2 separate regions of the Homo sapiens genome follow, and region 2 is linked to region 1. Evidence: fine-mapped expression QTL. A gene starts in region 1. The other region holds a variant in brackets. All regions are shown on one strand. Distances are between the middles of the regions. Region 1 holds the start of SHARPIN (SHANK associated RH domain interactor). Region 2 holds the start of PARP10 (poly(ADP-ribose) polymerase family member 10).

What was found.
Region 2: its variant is fine-mapped to the expression of SHARPIN in whole blood (INTERVAL, PIP 0.96).

The regions. Positions count from the first base shown.
Region 1 is chr8:144,100,546-144,108,856 of GRCh38, reverse strand. SHARPIN (SHANK associated RH domain interactor) reads left to right here and starts at 5,084. Exons shown (of 9, transcript NM_030974.4): 1 at 5,084-5,304; 2 at 5,632-5,806. The coding sequence starts at 5,104. MAF1 (MAF1 negative regulator of RNA polymerase III) reads right to left here and starts at 4,396. Exons shown (of 8, transcript NM_032272.5): 1 at 3,999-4,396; 2 at 3,091-3,217; 3 at 2,860-2,988; 4 at 2,616-2,781; 5 at 2,393-2,514; 6 at 2,183-2,302; 7 at 1,894-2,022; 8 at 1,246-1,769. The coding sequence starts at 3,173. The coding sequence ends at 1,748. It overlaps WDR97 (WD repeat domain 97), which reads right to left and starts at 1,118. Exons shown (of 24, transcript NM_001316309.2): 1 at 995-1,118; 2 at 662-798; 3 at 1-541. The coding sequence starts at 1,106. RefSeq lists enhancers at 1-175, 3,797-4,091, 4,843-4,892 and silencers at 3,953-4,192, 4,953-5,232, 5,243-5,342.
Region 2 is chr8:143,983,975-143,992,285 of GRCh38, reverse strand. PARP10 (poly(ADP-ribose) polymerase family member 10) reads left to right here and starts at 5,826. Exons shown (of 11, transcript NM_032789.5): 1 at 5,826-5,928; 2 at 6,053-6,231; 3 at 6,311-6,565; 4 at 6,638-6,874; 5 at 6,958-7,742; 6 at 7,855-8,076; 7 at 8,182-8,278. The coding sequence starts at 5,927. GRINA (glutamate ionotropic receptor NMDA type subunit associated protein 1) reads right to left here and starts at 2,230. Exons shown (of 7, transcript NM_001009184.2): 1 at 2,087-2,230; 2 at 684-1,086; 3 at 482-594; 4 at 208-408; 5 at 1-41. The coding sequence starts at 1,062. RefSeq lists enhancers at 1-485, 5,150-6,053, 5,724-6,163 and silencers at 1,149-1,198, 1,031-1,325, 1,249-1,508, 1,639-1,778, 1,799-2,298. The variant G/C (reference allele first, on the strand shown) is at 4,292.

The sequences.
Region 1 (8,311 bases):
GCAGGACGTGGTGGGGAGGAACCGGCGCCACAGCCAGACGCATGAGCCTGCCTGTTGGGCTCGGGGGCGGGTGCAGTGCTGACCCTCGCAGCACCAGGCGGCGACCACCTGAACGGAACTGCCAGAGCGCCAGGCTGCTGTTCATCTCCGCAACGAGCAGCAGCCTGAGGTCGGGAACCGGCAGGCAGCAGGTGGGCGCCCAACCCGGGGCCCTGCCCACCCCCTGCTCGCTCAGCCACAGCAGGCTGAGGTTGGGCCTCAGAATTGCCAGCCCCGCGGGGCCCCAGCCTACAAAACGGCCCACGGCACCCAGCGGGCCCAGCACGGTCACCAGCCCCGTAAGCCGGACAGGCGCCAGCAGCGTCTCCTGTGCCCAGCCGTCTTCCTTGTGCAGGTGCAGGCGGCCCGCGCCGTCCAGCACCACGAAGCGTCCACCCACCGGGTCCTGCGCCACCGAGCGCAGCCCGGCTGCCACCTCCAGGCGGCGCAGTGGTTCCAGCCCATGCGTCAGGCGCGCCGCGCGCAGCTCGGCTCTCTTCTCCTGTGGGCCGGGGTGGGCGGGCCCGCAATCAAAGGTTGGGGCTACTCCGGCCTAGGGGACCCCTAAGGGAAGGCCCAGATCCGGAAAGAGGCCAGGAGGCGCAGGACAGGCACACCGCACCTTTTCCACGACTTCGTGGAGGCTGGTGCGCAGAAGCAGCCACAGCCGGCGGGCGCGGGCGCGCGGGGTCAGGCTTTGCCACTGTTGGCTGCTGGTCAAAAAGGGCAGGACCTGCGACGGCTCCGTGAAAGTCAACTCTGCGGGCAGGAACTGGAAGTTCTGCCACCTACAGCCTCAGGTCCTCGACCCTGACGGTTATGGGGAGCCCTCCTCCAGGGGCCCTGCCCTACCAGGGACTGCCCAGGGGAGTTTTGTTCCAGGGGACGGAACCCAAGCCCGAATGAGACCCACTTCCTAGCGGGATGCCCGGAGGGCGAGGCCAGGCCCCCTCACCATTCTTTTCGGTGAGCAGCCCAGGGTCTGGGACATCATAGCCATCCGCATCATACAGGTCCGAGTCCAGAACTAGGTTGTAGCCTTCTGCCTCCCACACCTCTGCCTCCATTTCAGCAACTGCGGTCCCAGAGCCCAACAGCTCCCAGGACTTAGCGGTCACGGCCCGCAGCGGCAGTTGCTAGGATACCAGATGCCGCCGGCCACTCCCACACCGCAGGCCCCACCCCCACACCGCATCAGGTCCACACTAAGTCACAGAAACTTTTATTGGAAAGAAACGAGCTGCAGCAAAGTGACACTCAGTGCACGCGGCCAAATGGGCGAGGTGGGGGTACAGGTGGGCACCGGGGCCGGCCCAAGACCAGAGCCGGTGACTGCTGGGGCCTGCTCGTGGGGCCTCCGGCCACAGACCCTTTGGGCTGGAGTGTGCAGGCCCAGTAGAAATACAAAAATAAACTCTGCGGTCCAGCTGTCCCTGCTGTGGCAGTTCATTTGGGCAGGGCAGTCGCTCCTCCCACCAGGCCCCCTGCTGACAAGTCCGGCCACAGCATGGGCAGCAGGAGTCTGAGGGGTGAGTGGGCATCCACAGGATGGAGCCAAAGGGCTAGGCAGGTATGGCCTTGGGCAGTGCCAGGACTGTGGCAGCGCCAGGGTCTGGCCAGCAGCTGGGGAGGCCCCAGGGGCCTCTCAGGTGGACAGGTCCAGGCATTGGTTGAAGCTGGATGAAGCTGGGGCCTCGGCTCCTCCTCATCAAATACAGATCACTGGGACCCTGGGCGGAGGTTGGCACACAGTGGGCCTTCAGGAGCCACCACTTAGACCAAGTAGAGGAGGCCCCCACCCTGTTGTACCCACTCCAGGCTTCAAGGACCCGGGTCATGGCCCCCATCACACACCTGTCCTCCTCCATGGTGCTGGTCTCCTCGGCCCCACTGCCCCCGCTTCTGCTTTCTTCCTCCACCTCCTCCTCCCCCAGCTCCATGTCCAGCTCGTTGCCTGCCTCTGAGGGTGTGTAGGTGGAGCCACTGAGGGGAGGCAGGGAAACCAGTTTCAGGACCCCTACCCAGGCCTGCTGCTGGCCCCAGGGAGGATGTTCAGGGAGGGCAAAGCTGGGTGGAGATGGCACAGCTGGGGAAGTTGTATCGGCCCAACAGGGAGGTGGGGGAGGAGGCGGGGGGTGCCCACCTGATGGAACGGCAGCTAAAGAAGACGATTCGCTTGAGCCGCTTGTTGTAGAAGAAGTAGTTGAAGGACCAGAGGCTACCATCCTCCCCGAAGGGATCTGAGTCCAAGTCTGGGTTATAGCTGGGGAGTATAGGGTGACAGGTGGTGTGAGGCGCCAAGTGCCCCACAAACCTGGAGGCCTGGAGGCCATCTGCAGGGATGCCGGCCCACCTGTAGATGTCACATTCAGCCAGGCAGATCTCCTCGTCCACCGCGTTCCACAGCTGTGGTTTCAGATCCTTGAAGTCCTCCCGCACAGCTGAGAACAGACTGCAGTTGACTGCATTCACCACCTAGGGCAGGTCACAGTCAGGGTGACAGGAGCCCAGGGCTACCCAAAGTGGGGAAGGACAGTGGGGTGGCTGTGGGTCCCTTCCCTCCACCTGACCCTCACCCAGCTAAGGCTGGGCTCCCGGCTGAACTCATGGCTGCGGGCTGTGCTGAAGTCATAGTCAGGCCTGAAGGACTCATTGAGCGTGGCAATCAGGTAGAAGAGGGTCTTGCGGCTGCACTTGTCACTGAGGGGGCCCTCCTCCTCACCGCCTTGGCTTTTGCTGAGTCTGCACAGACAGAACCATCAGCTGGGCCCATCACCTCCCCTCAACCCCCAGCCCCAGGTAGGCCCCACCATGGCTCACCTGCTGGGGCTCAGTCCTGAAGTCTGGGGTGGAGAAAGTGCCTCCAGCACGTGGGGCTGGCCCTCCTGGCAGAACTGCTTGAACATGTGTTTGTCGTCTCCTGCCATCTTACATGAGTAGCTCTCAATCCTATAGGATGCAGAGAGAACCATGAAGCATGCTTCCCCCAGGTTCCACTGAAGGGCGCGGCAGTGTGACCTCCGAGATGCCAGCCCCCCCAGCCTGCCTCACCTGCCAATGATGTGGGCATCTCCAGTCTCCACAGTCAGCTGTGAGTTGATGGCTTCAAAGCTCGAGTTCTCCAATAGCTTCATGTCTTTGGGGAAGGAGCTCCGTGCTCCAGAGGGGCTAGTATTGCCTGGGGAGTGAGAGACCAGACCATGGGTATCTATCTGGCCCCTTGGGGCCCTGCCTTCAGCCCTCCTACCCACTAAGTGGAGCCGCTAGGAACAAGCTGAGTCTGGCCTCTGTCCAGGCTGCACATCAGGAGCTCCCCTCTCTGCCCGGCCAGGAGAGGTGACAGAGATCCTGTTTTACCTGAGGGTGGTAAGTCCAGGCTCCAGGTCAGCCATACCCCCTGCAGAACACGCGAGTTCTGGGACTAGACTAGACCACCGGGGACCCTGCTCACCCTGGGGCTGCTGGCTGAGATTGTTGCTCAACATTCCCATTCCCCATCTCCACGCCCACTCCAAAAGAGCTCCAGCCACCATGGGGGTAACTCTTGAGTCCGCAACGGGACGTGACTCCTGCAGTCTCCCTCAGGCTGGCTGGGCTCCTCAGCCAAGGTAAGAGGCTGCATCCCGGTTAGGAACCAGGACACCTGGGACTCCGGGCCCTGCGGTCACCTGGGCGGGCGCTCTTTCGTTTTGGCTACTTTCTGGCCCGGGGAGAGGAAAACTACAGGTTCCTCCACTCTACCCGGAAAAATTGCCTAGTTTCTCCAGACGCCTAGGAGGGCGGTCCCTCGGCCCCGCTGGGGCGCTGCAGTCACCAGGCAGCGCCCGCCTGGGCCACGTCGGGCACCAGCCAAGCCGCGGTGGAACTACAAATCCCAGGAGGCAGCGCGCCGCGCGAGGCCTGCTGGGGGCTGTGGTTCCGGGTACGCAGACGGCGCGGGACGCAGGGCGGACACCCACCTGCCTGGCTGGGTTAGATCAGGCCGCGCCGGGCCGGGTCTGGCTGGGCTGGGTCGCTCCGCGTCGGTGCCGGTGCGCAGGCGGGGGCGGGCTCCGCGCAGCGCGGGCTCTTCAAGATCGGAGGGCGGCGCCGCGGCCTCCGCTCGGGCCGCACTGTATCCGGGGGAAGAAGCTCCGCGGCGACGTCCCGTTACTCCCGGCCCTGCCGGCCCATCCGGGCTGCCACCGCGACATAGCCTCGCCCCCTTCCACAGAGCCCGCTCTCGCGACCGACCTGCCGCCGACCGCCACAGAGCGCTCCGGCGAGTCAGCGAGCCGAGCGAGCGAGCGAGCGACCTCCGCCTCCCCCGGCCGGACAACAACAAGCGTCCGCCGGGCCCGGCCCCGCGCCTCTGAATGGCCCGCTCCAGTCTCCGAGATCGAGAGCTCGAATAGCCATCGGGTGCCGTACCCGCCACTCAGTTCTGCCTTCTACGTCTACTGGTTATGGAGCCTGTCTGTCACTCTTCTCGTCGTACTAACCCGCTTACCCCCGGCGTTCATTGGCCGTGGCCTCTCTAGCTCCGCCCCCTAGGGGGGTCGACCCCGTAACCAGTGAGGCGCGGGCCAACCTAGTGCGACGTGTGGGCGTGGCGGGGGCTGGGGTCTGCGGGCGAAGGTGGCAGCCCATTGGAGGTCCCGGGAGCGAAGTCCAGCTGCCGTTAGGCGCTGGGATAGTCGCACGCTGGATGCATCTACGTCCGCCGAGCCCCTGGGGCGAAGAGGCCGCGTCCGCCTTCAGTTGTGGCCGGTGCTTCGCCCCCTGACCCTTCGCCCCCAAAGACCAGCTCTAACGTGAGCGCCTCGGCCGCCCTGCCCCAGCCTCGTACACGCCGCCAGCCTCGCCCAGCCGGTGTCCGGAGACCCTCGGGCCGTGTCCATTTGTGGGCAAAGCCAGCGGGGCAGGCTTGGCCAGAGTGCACCACTCGGCGCCGTCCCAGGCCCGACGCTCTGGGCGCGCCCGGAACCCCAGGTTCGCGGCCCGTGTTTCCGACCGGCGGAGGGGGCTCAGCGGCCCGATCCCACGGAAGCGCGCTCGGAGGGGTGGGACCCGGCCGGACCGGAGATGGCGCCGCCAGCGGGCGGGGCGGCGGCGGCGGCCTCGGACTTGGGCTCCGCCGCAGTGCTCTTGGCTGTGCACGCCGCGGTGAGGCCGCTGGGCGCCGGGCCAGACGCCGAGGCACAGCTGCGGAGGCTGCAGCTGAGCGCGGACCCTGAGCGGCCTGGGCGCTTCCGGCTGGAGCTGCTGGGCGCGGGACCTGGGGCGGTGAGTGGGGGCGGAGGGCGCGCGGTCAGTCCTCTTGGCCCGGGCAGGGCACGGAGCCCAAAGTTAGGCCCCTCCGCTTGCCACCTGGGTGCCCTTAAGCAGTTATGTTTCTTTGCTTCTGTTTTCTCGTCCGTGAAATGGGGGTGACGCTCGGACCTACTGGGACCTACCTGGACCTACTTTACAGGGCTATTGTGAGGATTTGATGATAGGCGTACAGGGCTTAGGACCGTGTAAATGGTCTATAAATGTTACCTTGTATTTCTTTGCTCCTCGTGCGATGTAGGGCGGGGGGACGCCCTGAGCCTGGACTCTCCCTCTTCTCAGGTTAATTTGGAGTGGCCCCTGGAGTCAGTTTCCTACACCATCCGAGGCCCCACCCAGCACGAGCTACAGCCTCCACCAGGAGGGCCTGGAACCCTCAGCCTGCACTTCCTCAACCCTCAGGAAGCTCAGCGGTGGGCAGTCCTAGTCCGAGGTGCCACCGTGGAAGGACAGAATGGTCAGTGCCCTGTAATGGATACAATTACAATTTGGAATAGCCTTGGCCCCCCAGTCCTGGTTGGGGAAGTTGGATCCACCTTCCCCACTGCTGGATGTCTGGGAAGGCTTCCAGGAGGGAGTAGGTGGAGCCTGGAGTAGCTTGGAGTACTTGGAGTGGCTGCTGGAGTCAGTCTCCTACACCATCTGAGGCCCCAGCCAGCACAAGTTGCAGCCTCCACCAGGAAGCCCTGGAACCTCAGCCTGCACTTCCTTAACCCTCAGGAAGGATGAGAGGCAAGCATGAAGAGGCAGAGCAGGCAGGGTCAGGACCTGTGTGAGAAGACATCATCCCAAGAGCAGCAGGAGAGTGACAGGAGTGGGAGAGTGACAGACTCAGATACCTCCTGCTTAAGACAGAGTTCTGCAGTGGCAAGGGTTGGTGCAGATAGGGTTGGGGAGAAGGATGTTTCTAGAGATGCTTAGAAGATGGAATTAGTGGCCGGGTGGGGTGGCTCACGCCTGTAATTCCAGCACTTTGGGAGGCCGAGGTGGGTGATCACCTGATGTCAGGAGTTTGAGACCAGCCTGGTCAGCAAGGTGAAACCCTGTCTCTACTAAAAATACAAAAATTAGCCAGGCGTGGTGGCGTGTGCCTGTAGTCCCAGCTACTTGGGGAGGCTGAGGCAGGAGAATCACTTGAACCCGGAGGCAGAGGTTGCAGTGAGCTGAGATCTTGCCACTGCACTCCAGCCTGGGTGACAGAGCAAGACTCCATCTCAAAAAAAAAAAAAAAAGAAGATGGAATTAGCTGAGTTTCATGGCTGCTTGGGAGGTTTTTTGCAGACAAAGACTCCCTCTCTCACCCAGACTGGAGTGCAGTAGCGTGACCCTAACTCACTGGAGCCTTGAACTCCTGGTCTACGGTGATCCTCCTGCTTCAGCCTAAGTAGCTGTTATTGGCATGAGCCACTGCCCCTGGCTCACATGGCTGCTTAAATGGAAGAGTTAGCAGTTGAGACTGAGAAACATGAAGGACTAGGTAGTATGGGGCTCCCAGATAGAGGGCAGCCCACAAACGAGATAAGCAGAGCTGCCAGAGGGGTAGGAAGACAGCCAGACAGTGATGTAAGAGAGACTCAAGCAACTCAGGGTTTATAAAAGGAGCTAAGCTCTCTTTAGTCATTCACCAAGCATATGTATTCAGCAGCTGCCCTGTCCCAGGTACTCCTTTGGCATGAACAAAACCTCCCATCCCCATCCTATTGGAGCTTGCATTTTTAGAGGGGAGGAGGCAGACATATAAAATAAGTACAGGGCTGGGCAACATACAAAAAATTTAAAAATTAGCTGAGTGGGCCGGGCACGGTGGCTCACACCTGTAATCACAGCACTTTGGGAGGCCGATGTGGGCAGATCATGAGGTTAAGAGATCGAGACCATCCTGGCTAACACGGTGAAACCCTGACTACTAAAAAAAAAAAAAAAAAAAAAAAATTAGCTGGGTGTGGTGGTGGGGACCTATAGTCCCAGCTACTCGGGAGGCTGAGGCAGGAGAAGGGCGTGAACCCAGGAGGTGGAGCTTGCAGTGAGCCGAGATTGCACCACTGCACTCCAGCCTGGGCAACAGAGCGAGACTCCATCTCACAAAAAAAAAAAAAAAAAAAAATTAGCTGAGTGTAGTCGTGTCTGCCTGTAATCCCAGCTATTCGGGAGGTTGAGATGGGAGGATCACTTGAGCCCAGGGGTTCTAGGCTGCAGTGAGCTGTGATCGTGCCACTGCACTCCAGCCTGGGTGACAGAGCGAGATCCTGTCTCCAAAAAAAAAAACAAAAATAATAAAATTACTGTAGAGTTTTTTAAAAAAGAAAGTCTGTTAGATGGTGTGGGAATGAGAATGGTGGAGCTGGGAGGATTGCTGTTTAAAACGGTGGCAGGGGCCGGGCGCGGTGGCTCACGCCTATCATCCCAGCACTTTGGGAGGCCGAGGTGGGCAGATCACCTGAGGTCGGGAGTTCAAGACCAGTCTGACCAACATGGAGAAATCCCGTCTCTACTAAAAATACAAAATTAGCCGGGCGTGGTGGTGCATGCCTGTGATCCCAGCTACTCAGGAGGCTGAGGCAGGAGAATCGCCTGAACCCAGGAGGCGGAGGTTGCGGTGAGCCGAGATCACACCACTGCACTCCAGCCTGGGCAACGAGTGAAACTCCGTCTCAAAAAAAAAAAAAAGTGGTGGCAGGGAAGGCCTCATTGAGGTGACACTGGAGTGAAATTTGAAGGTCATGGCATGAACCATGTGACCAAGGAAGCAGCAAACAAACCCTGAGGTGAGCATGTATAAGTGATCCTTGAGGTTCAGTGGGGGCCGGGGCCGGGGCCGGGGCCAGGAACAGCGCTGGGTGCGTGGAAGGCCCTGCTTATCCTAGTAGGGAGATGGTAGAATATAGTGGGCCTGAGACCACGGGAGCTGTGTCAGCACTGGATGGGGACCCCCCCATTGCAGTGGGCTGGGCCTCACAGGGCG
Region 2 (8,311 bases), 120 kb after region 1:
ATCATCCCCACCATGTACGACAGGCTGGCGGTCAGGACCGACTGCAGTTGGGAGACACAGGCTGACCTTGGGTGTGTGCCCCCATGCCACCCCTGCCGGCCCCTGCCTCATGAGCACAAGGAGAACCACGGTGACCAGGCCCGGAAGAGTGGGCGTGTGGGACTGCATGGCCGGACCCAGGCACAGAGGCTCAGGTTTGGGGGTTACCAGTGCAACAAGGTTCCAGGGGTGCTTTCGCCGGAAGTCCCCACAACAGCTGAGGACGATGAGAGAGATGAAGAAGACAGCATAGGAGACATAGTAGGTCCAGACATTCTCCCGGACAAAGCCCTTCACCTCCGCAACAAAAGTGAACACAGACACCGTGGACAGGGTCACCGACAGCTGCAAGGTCAGCACTAGGAACACCTGGGGAAGGAGCCGCTCAGAGTCATCCGCTGGGAGCCACAGCCCCCACCGCCTTGGAGATGCCCCTACCCACCTTGCGGATGAAGGCCTGTCGGATGCTCTTGTCATCCCAGTTGGTGGCAGGGAAGTCCTGGTTGTCATAGTAGGATGGGGGACCCTCCTCCTGGTAGTTTCCATGCTGGGGTGCTGAGAAGCAGACAGGCTGGGTCAGCGCCACTCACAAGCACCTCCCCCTGCCCTCCCGGCCACCCCACCCCTCCCTTCCTGAGACTCACAGTCAGGGTCTTGTCCTGGGAAGACCTGTGGCTGTCCATAGGGGTTGGGGGGGAAGGGGCTCTGGGGATATGGCCCCTGGGGGTAGCCCCCTTGGGGGTAGGGGCCCTGTGGGTAGCCCTCTTGTGGGTAGGGGCCCTGTGGGTAGCCCCCTTGGGGGTAGGGACCCTGTGGGTAGCCCCCTTGGGGGTAGGGGCTGGGGCCATGGGGGTACCCTGGCTGACCGTAGGGGGAGGGCTGGAAAGGGGGCTGTGGGTAAGGGGCCCCAGGGTAGGGAGGCTGAGCATAGGGGGGCATGGGTGGCTGGGGCCCCCCCGGATATCCAGGGTTGGGGGGAGGATAGTTGTCCCCAGACACCAAAAAACTCTTTTCATGGGACATGGCCTCGGGTTCCGCGGTCCGCCCCTAGAGAAGACAGACAAGGAACAGTGGAACAGTTGGCTTGACGACAGCGTCGGGACCCAGCCCTGCGCAACTCCACCTGCTTCTGGGAACCCAGGGGGAAGCAAGGGAAGACCGTGACCTTTGCCCCGGGCTGTGGGGAGCCCCGGAGCCTGGGCCCGGAGAAGCGCGTGAGGACCGGACGGGCGGCGCCGTGGGGCCTTCCCAGGGCTCTAGGCCGCCTTTAGGGTGGGGGAGGGGCCGGGCGAGGGGACGACCGCCAGCCTCGGGATTTGGGGCTTGGGTCGTTTCTCACAAGCAACCGGAGGCCTGCGCCGCTGCCGGCGTCTCCCGGGTGGGAGCTCAGCGCGGAGGCTGGGGTCTCGGCCGGGGACGTGTGGGGTGTGCCCGGACCCTCCCCTCCGCATCCCGCCCCTTAAGCAGCTTTAAGGGGCCGGAGCCGGCGGCTATTTCTATCCCAGGAAATCCCCGGGCCATCTGTGACCAACAAAGGCCCGAGCCCCCCCACCCCCGCGAGCCCAACAACAGGGCCCAACGGCCCCTGGCTCCGGGGTGGGGGGATCGGGCCTGGATCGGCTGCCGGTGCCTGCCAGTGGGGTACGCCGGGAACAGCGGGGTGCGGGGGTGTGTGGGGGATGGAAGCGACCACGGGGCGTGCGGGGAACAAAGCGGGCGTGGGGCGAGGCGGGTAGGGGCTGCGGCCGTGGCACTGGCACCGAGAGCGGATGGGCCCTCCGCGGGCCGGGGGCGCACAGGGTCACGGGTCCAGCAGTCGCCGCAGCGCGCCGCCCCCTCCCTCCGGCTCCAGGCCGCCGCGGCTCCCCGCCCCCACCACCGCCGCCACCTCTGGCCGCGAGCTGCCGCGCGCCCCGGCCGGACCAACTTACTGACCCGAGGCGGCCACGCTCGGATGCGCAAGATCCGCGTGGGGGCGGGGGCGGGGGCGGCAGGCCGCGCGGCGCAGCGGGTCAGAGGCGCTCCTGGGCTCGGGCCGGGGACTCACCGGTGGCCGGGCGCCGCAGGCCGGTACGCACGGTGTCCGCTGCGCGGCCGCGCGGTGATGGCCGATGCGCCCGCACCCGCACCCGCTCGGCGGCCGCTCAGCTGGGCCTGCGCCTGCGGCTCGGAAGACGCAGCGGGGCCTTGTGACGGGGCGGGGCAGGGGGCGGGGCCGGGCGAGCTTCGGGGTGGGAGGGGCAGGTGGGCGGGGCTTCCGCGGACCCCTCCCGCTGCGCCGCCTTGCGTGTTCCTCTTCGCTCCGGCCAGAGGCCCGCCTCTCACTGTCTGCCGAGGGGTGGGGTCGGGCGGTGGGCGCTGAAGACCCCTGGAGGCAGAAGTCTGGTCTGGCCAATTTGACTGGCCGTTCGGTAGTTAAGAAATTTATTCCTAAATGCGGGATTTGCTGAAGCTGCCCGGGACTGACCGTCCGTTCTCGGCCTTAAAACCCGACGTTCACTTCTTTTCATCCAGATCTCTCCCAAATCAAGAAGCCTAATCCTTTAGTTCCCAAATCGAGGCCTCGTGGTTTAATTGCCCCATTTGCTCTGTCAGCCCAAACTCTGCCAGGCCTGCTACTAGAGACCCTTTTTTATTTTTTTAATTCTTGTGGATACATAGTAGGTGTATATTTACGGGCTACATGGGATGTTTTGATACAGGCATGCCATGGATAATAATCACATCAAGGTAAATGGGGTATCCATCAGCTCAGGCATTTTGTCCTTCGTGTTACAAACAATCCAGTTATACTCTTGGAGTTGTTTTAAAATGTACAATTATTCTTGACCACAGTCACCCTTTGTACTAACAAATACGATGTCTTGTTTTCACACTAGAGACCCTGAACGCTCGCTTGTCTGCCTAACGTCCTCACAAGCTGCGAGGGGCTGAGGCTTGGGGATGCAGCAGGACTGGAGGCCAGGCCACCTCCCTGCTTAGCTCCCAAGTCCTCTTGGGGGAGCAGTGACTGACACAGGCAGGGTACATCCTGCTGCCAGCCTTCCCACCCGGGGCCCAGACCCCACCTGCCCTCCCGCCCTTGGAGGGCCGGCCTCTCCCAGGCCGCTCTGAGTCCTGCACCTATGGTGCGCTGGCGCAGTGTTTAGCAGCCGGACCTAGTGAGGGGAAGCCTGGGGTGCGTGTTTTGCACATGCGCGTGGTGTGAATACTCCACCGGGGCTGGTTTCAAGTTACCCCCAGCTGGACAACCAGTCCACAGAAATTCCCGAAACTGTACCAGTCTGCTTGTGGTGTGAGTGGTGCCTGTGGCAGGCCCTCTGCAGCCAGGGTCGGCGTAATGGATAACCTGTGATGAGTTCCATTAGAGAAAACGTGGAAAAAGCAGGGATGGATTTACCCTTGTAGAAGGTAACTTCTACCTTTGTAGAAGCAGAAGCTCACAAAATTTGAGAGACCTTTAAGAAAAATAAAATGCTTGCTGGGCGCGGTGGCTTACGCCTGTAATCCCAGCACTTTGGGAGGCCGAGGCGGGTGGATCACAAGGTCAGGAGATGGAGACCATCCTGGCTAACACGGTGAAACCCCGTCTCTACTAAAAATACAAAAAAAAATTAGCTGGGCGTGGTGGTGTGCACCTGTAATCCCAGCTATTGGGGGGGCTGAGGCAGGAGAATGGCTTGAACCTGGGAGGCAGAGGTTACAGTGAGCTGAGATCGTGCCACCGCACTCCAGCCTGCGTAACAGAGTGTGACTCTGTCTCAAAAAATAAATAAATAAGTAAATAAAAATAAAATAGCTGGGTATGGTGGCTGGCACCAGTAATCCCAGCACTTTGGGAGGCTGAGGCAGGTGGATCATCTGAGGTCAGGAGTTTGAGACCAGTCTGCCCAATAGGGTGAAACCCTGTCTCTGCTAAAAATACAAAAATTAGCTGGGCATGGTGGTGCGTGCCTGTAATCCCAGCTACTTGGGAGGCTTAGGCAGGAGAATCCCTTGAACCCAGTGGGTGGACGTTGCAGTGAGCCGAGATCACGGCACTTCACTCCAGCCTGGGTGAAAGGGCGAAACTCCGTCTCAGAAAAAAAAAAAAAAAAGGCAGAGTAAGGGAGATCATGCCAGAGGGGTGGCCATGGGGGTTTGTGGGGAAGGTAGGGCCAAGCAGAGGGAAGGGCCAGTCCCAGGCTACTGAGGCAGGAGTGGCCTGTAGCTCTGCAGGAAGAGCTGAGAGCCTGGAGCCCTCTGAGCATCA[G/C]GGTGTGCAGGGGGCATGGGGCCAGAGAAGGGACTGAGGTCTGGTCAGGTGCAGCTGGGCAGGGGGCAGGTCCTCAAAAGGACTTTGGGTTTTTGTTTTTTTTTTAGACAGAGTCTCACTCTATCACCTTGGTTGGAGTGCAGTGGCACGATCTCAGCTCACTGCAACCTCCACCTCCCAGGTTCAAGCTATTCTCCTGACTCAGCCTCCTGAGTAGCTGAGATTATAGGCACCTGCCACCATGCCCGGCTAATTTTTATATTTTTAGTAGAGACAGGGTTTTACCATGTTGGCCAGGCTGATCTCAAACTCCTGACCTCGTGATCCACCTGCCTCAGTCTCCCAAAGTGCTGGGATTACAGGCATGAGCCACTGCGCCCGGCCCCCAGGACTTTGGTTTCTACTGTTGCTGATGCTGGGAGCTGTAGCAGCTGCTGGTGTCATTTTACAAGGCTCACCCTGACACCTCTGTTGAGGACCCACCATGGGAGTGGCAGACAGAGACTAGTTAAGAGGTTAGCCTAGCTACCTAGCGAGAGATGCTGGAGGCTGGGACCAGGGTCGGGGCAGCAGAGGTGTGGCATGTGCAGGGCTAGGAGTGCAGGCTGGCCAGGGTCCTCAGCTCCCTGGAGGGAGGAACAGCAGGGGTGGGGCTGGGTTTTGGTGGGCTGAGGGGTGAGTGGGAAGTAGGAGATGGAGAGTGGTAGTGGCCACAGCTCTTTGAAAGGCTGGAAGCAAACGGAGCTTGGGTGATGTGGGAGATCTGTGGCGAGTGGGAGTGTGGACTCTGAAGGCACCGCCCAGGTTTGAGGCCTGGTGCTGCTATGGGCCTGTCTGCACCTCCGTTTCCCTTTCTGTGGTGAGGATTAGCGGCAGCAAGGAATGCAGTGGAGCCATTACCTTGTCACCTTCTGAGGTTACTTGTGACGATGCCAATGATGGTGTGAGATGGGGAGGTGCAGGCAGGACAGAAAGCTGCAGGAATGGGCAGGCAAGACCTGAGGCGGGAGGAAGGCTGTGCTGCAATGCACATTCTTGGAGACCAAGGGTGGGGAACCGCCCATGCTCAGCACCTGGCAGGTGTGAGGGACCAGGAGCAGGGTTGAGAAGGTTGCTGGGGGCGTTGAAGGCCAGCCTTGGCCGGGGGCGGGCCTGGAGACCCAGCACTTTGTGTGCAGAGGGTGTCATGGACACAGAGGCTTGGAGATCCTGAGTGAGGGGCAGTGACTCAGGCCCCTTGGTGGGTTTAGTGGGGCGGGTGATTGGCCATTTTCAGGCCATGGAGGCCAGGGGAGTGGAGGGCCACCAGGGGACACTCCTGTCTACCCTGCCAACCAGGGGCTGGAGTGGGCCAGGTAGGGCCGGTGGGCTGGGCTGGGTTGGCTGGAGGGTCCTGAGGGGTCCAGCCTGGCCAATACCTCCTGGTCAGCTGGGGGTTGAGGCTGCAGCAGGAGAGGAAGCATCTGAGCCCCAGTACCCAGGCCTCAGCGCCCAGGGCCCAGCTGCTCCCTCCCTCCTTCCGTCTTTCAGTTTCACTTTTGTTTTCCTGCTCCCAGCAGGGTTAGGCTTGCTGAGGGGCAGGCACAGGAGTCCTGGCTGAGCTCATGGCCTGAGGCTGCCTAGCGGCCACGGGGAATGTAAGTGCTGTATGTGGGGCCACCCATAATGGGGGAGCATTGAGGACACACCTTGGAGGGGCCTGGGGAGGGGCAGGAGGGGTGGAATGGGCTGTTTCCCTACCCACCTGATGCCCCGTCCCAGGGTTGCAATGGCGGAGGCAGAGGCAGGGGTGGCAGTGGAGGTCCGTGGACTGCCCCCTGCCGTGCCCGACGAGCTGCTCACTCTCTACTTTGAAAACCGCCGACGCTCTGGAGGGGGACCTGTGTTGAGCTGGCAGAGACTGGGCTGTGGGGGCGTCCTCACCTTCAGAGAGCCTGCAGGTGAGAGGGCTGGCTGAAGGGACAGCCTGGGTGCCCTGATATTCTAATGCCTGACATCCTGCCCCGCCCCTGCCCACAGACGCCGAGAGGGTCTTGGCCCAGGCAGATCACGAACTACATGGTGCCCAGCTGAGCCTGCGGCCAGCTCCACCACGAGCCCCTGCACGCCTGCTGCTCCAAGGACTGCCCCCTGGCACCACGCCCCAGCGCTTGGAGCAGCATGTCCAGGCCTTGCTGCGGGCCTCGGGGCTCCCAGTACAGCCTTGCTGTGCCTTGGCCAGCCCCCGGCCAGACCGGGCTCTGGTCCAGTTGCCCAAGCCCCTTTCTGAGGCAGGTGAGAGGCAGGGTTGGGGTTGAGGTGCTGGCTAGGGGGGATTCCCTGAGCTGACCTGCACATACCCCACAGATGTCCGTGTCCTGGAGGAGCAGGCCCAGAATCTGGGCCTGGAGGGGACCTTGGTGTCCCTGGCCCGGGTTCCCCAGGCCCGAGCGGTGCGTGTGGTGGGGGATGGTGCCTCTGTGGACCTGCTGTTGCTGGAGTTGTACCTGGAGAATGAGCGCCGCAGTGGTGGGGGGCCCCTGGAGGACCTGCAACGCCTACCCGGGCCCCTGGGCACTGTTGCCTCCTTCCAGCAGTGGCAAGGTGAGTGGGGCTGGGCAGACCCAGCCGACCGTCCCTCTCCTGCAGAAATCTGACAGGCTTTCTGTCCTTTCCCTTCCTCCAAGTGGCAGAACGAGTGTTGCAGCAGGAGCACCGGTTGCAGGGCTCAGAGCTGAGCCTTGTCCCCCACTACGACATCCTGGAGCCCGAGGAGCTGGCTGAGAACACCAGTGGAGGGGACCACCCGTCCACCCAGGGGCCTAGGGCTACCAAGCATGCTCTCCTGAGGACCGGAGGGTTGGTGACGGCTCTGCAGGGTGCAGGGACTGTGACAATGGGCTCTGGCGAGGAACCAGGGCAGTCAGGGGCCTCTCTGAGGACAGGTCCCATGGTGCAGGGTAGAGGGATTATGACAACAGGCTCTGGCCAGGAACCAGGGCAGTCAGGGACCTCTCTGAGGACAGGTCCCATGGGGTCTCTGGGACAGGCAGAGCAAGTCAGCTCGATGCCCATGGGGTCTCTGGAACATGAGGGGCTGGTAAGCCTGAGGCCTGTGGGGTTGCAGGAACAGGAGGGGCCCATGAGCCTGGGGCCTGTGGGGTCTGCAGGCCCAGTGGAGACCTCTAAGGGGTTGCTGGGGCAGGAGGGCCTGGTGGAAATTGCCATGGACTCACCAGAGCAAGAGGGGCTGGTGGGTCCCATGGAGATCACCATGGGGTCTCTGGAGAAGGCAGGGCCTGTGAGCCCAGGATGTGTGAAGCTGGCAGGGCAGGAGGGCCTGGTGGAGATGGTGCTATTGATGGAGCCAGGGGCGATGCGCTTCCTGCAGCTCTACCATGAGGACCTTCTTGCGGGCCTGGGAGACGTCGCTCTCTTGCCACTTGAAGGACCGGATATGACTGGCTTTCGGGTGAGTGACCCCTCAGGACTCCTCACCTTCAGCCCCCTCCTCCTACTGGGGACTCAAAGTACCTTTCCTGTGCTCTAAACCTGCAAACTCCATCTCTGCAATGGCCCTGCAGCTCTGTGGAGCCCAGGCTTCCTGCCAGGCGGCTGAGGAGTTTCTGCGGAGCCTGCTGGGCAGCATTAGCTGCCATGTGTTGTGCCTGGAGCACCCGGGCAGCGCCAGGTTTCTCCTGGGCCCAGAAGGGCAGCACCTTCTCCAGGGGCTGGAGGCTCAGTTCCAGTGTGTCTTTGGGACAGAGCGCCTGGCCACAGCCACGTTGGACACAGGCCTTGAAGAGGTAGAGATGGAGTCCCACCCCTGCCCTCCCCTTTCTCACGCCTCTGCCCCAGGCCTCCTCTGCCCTTGCCCAGAGGCTAGTGGTCCTGACATCCTCTCCCTACAGGTGGACCCTACCGAGGCCCTCCCAGTGCTCCCTGGCAACGCCCACACCCTGTGGACCCCAGACAGTACAGGTGGTGACCAGGAGGACGTGAGCCTGGGTAGGGCTCCCTGGGAGCCCTCAGCACATCCTG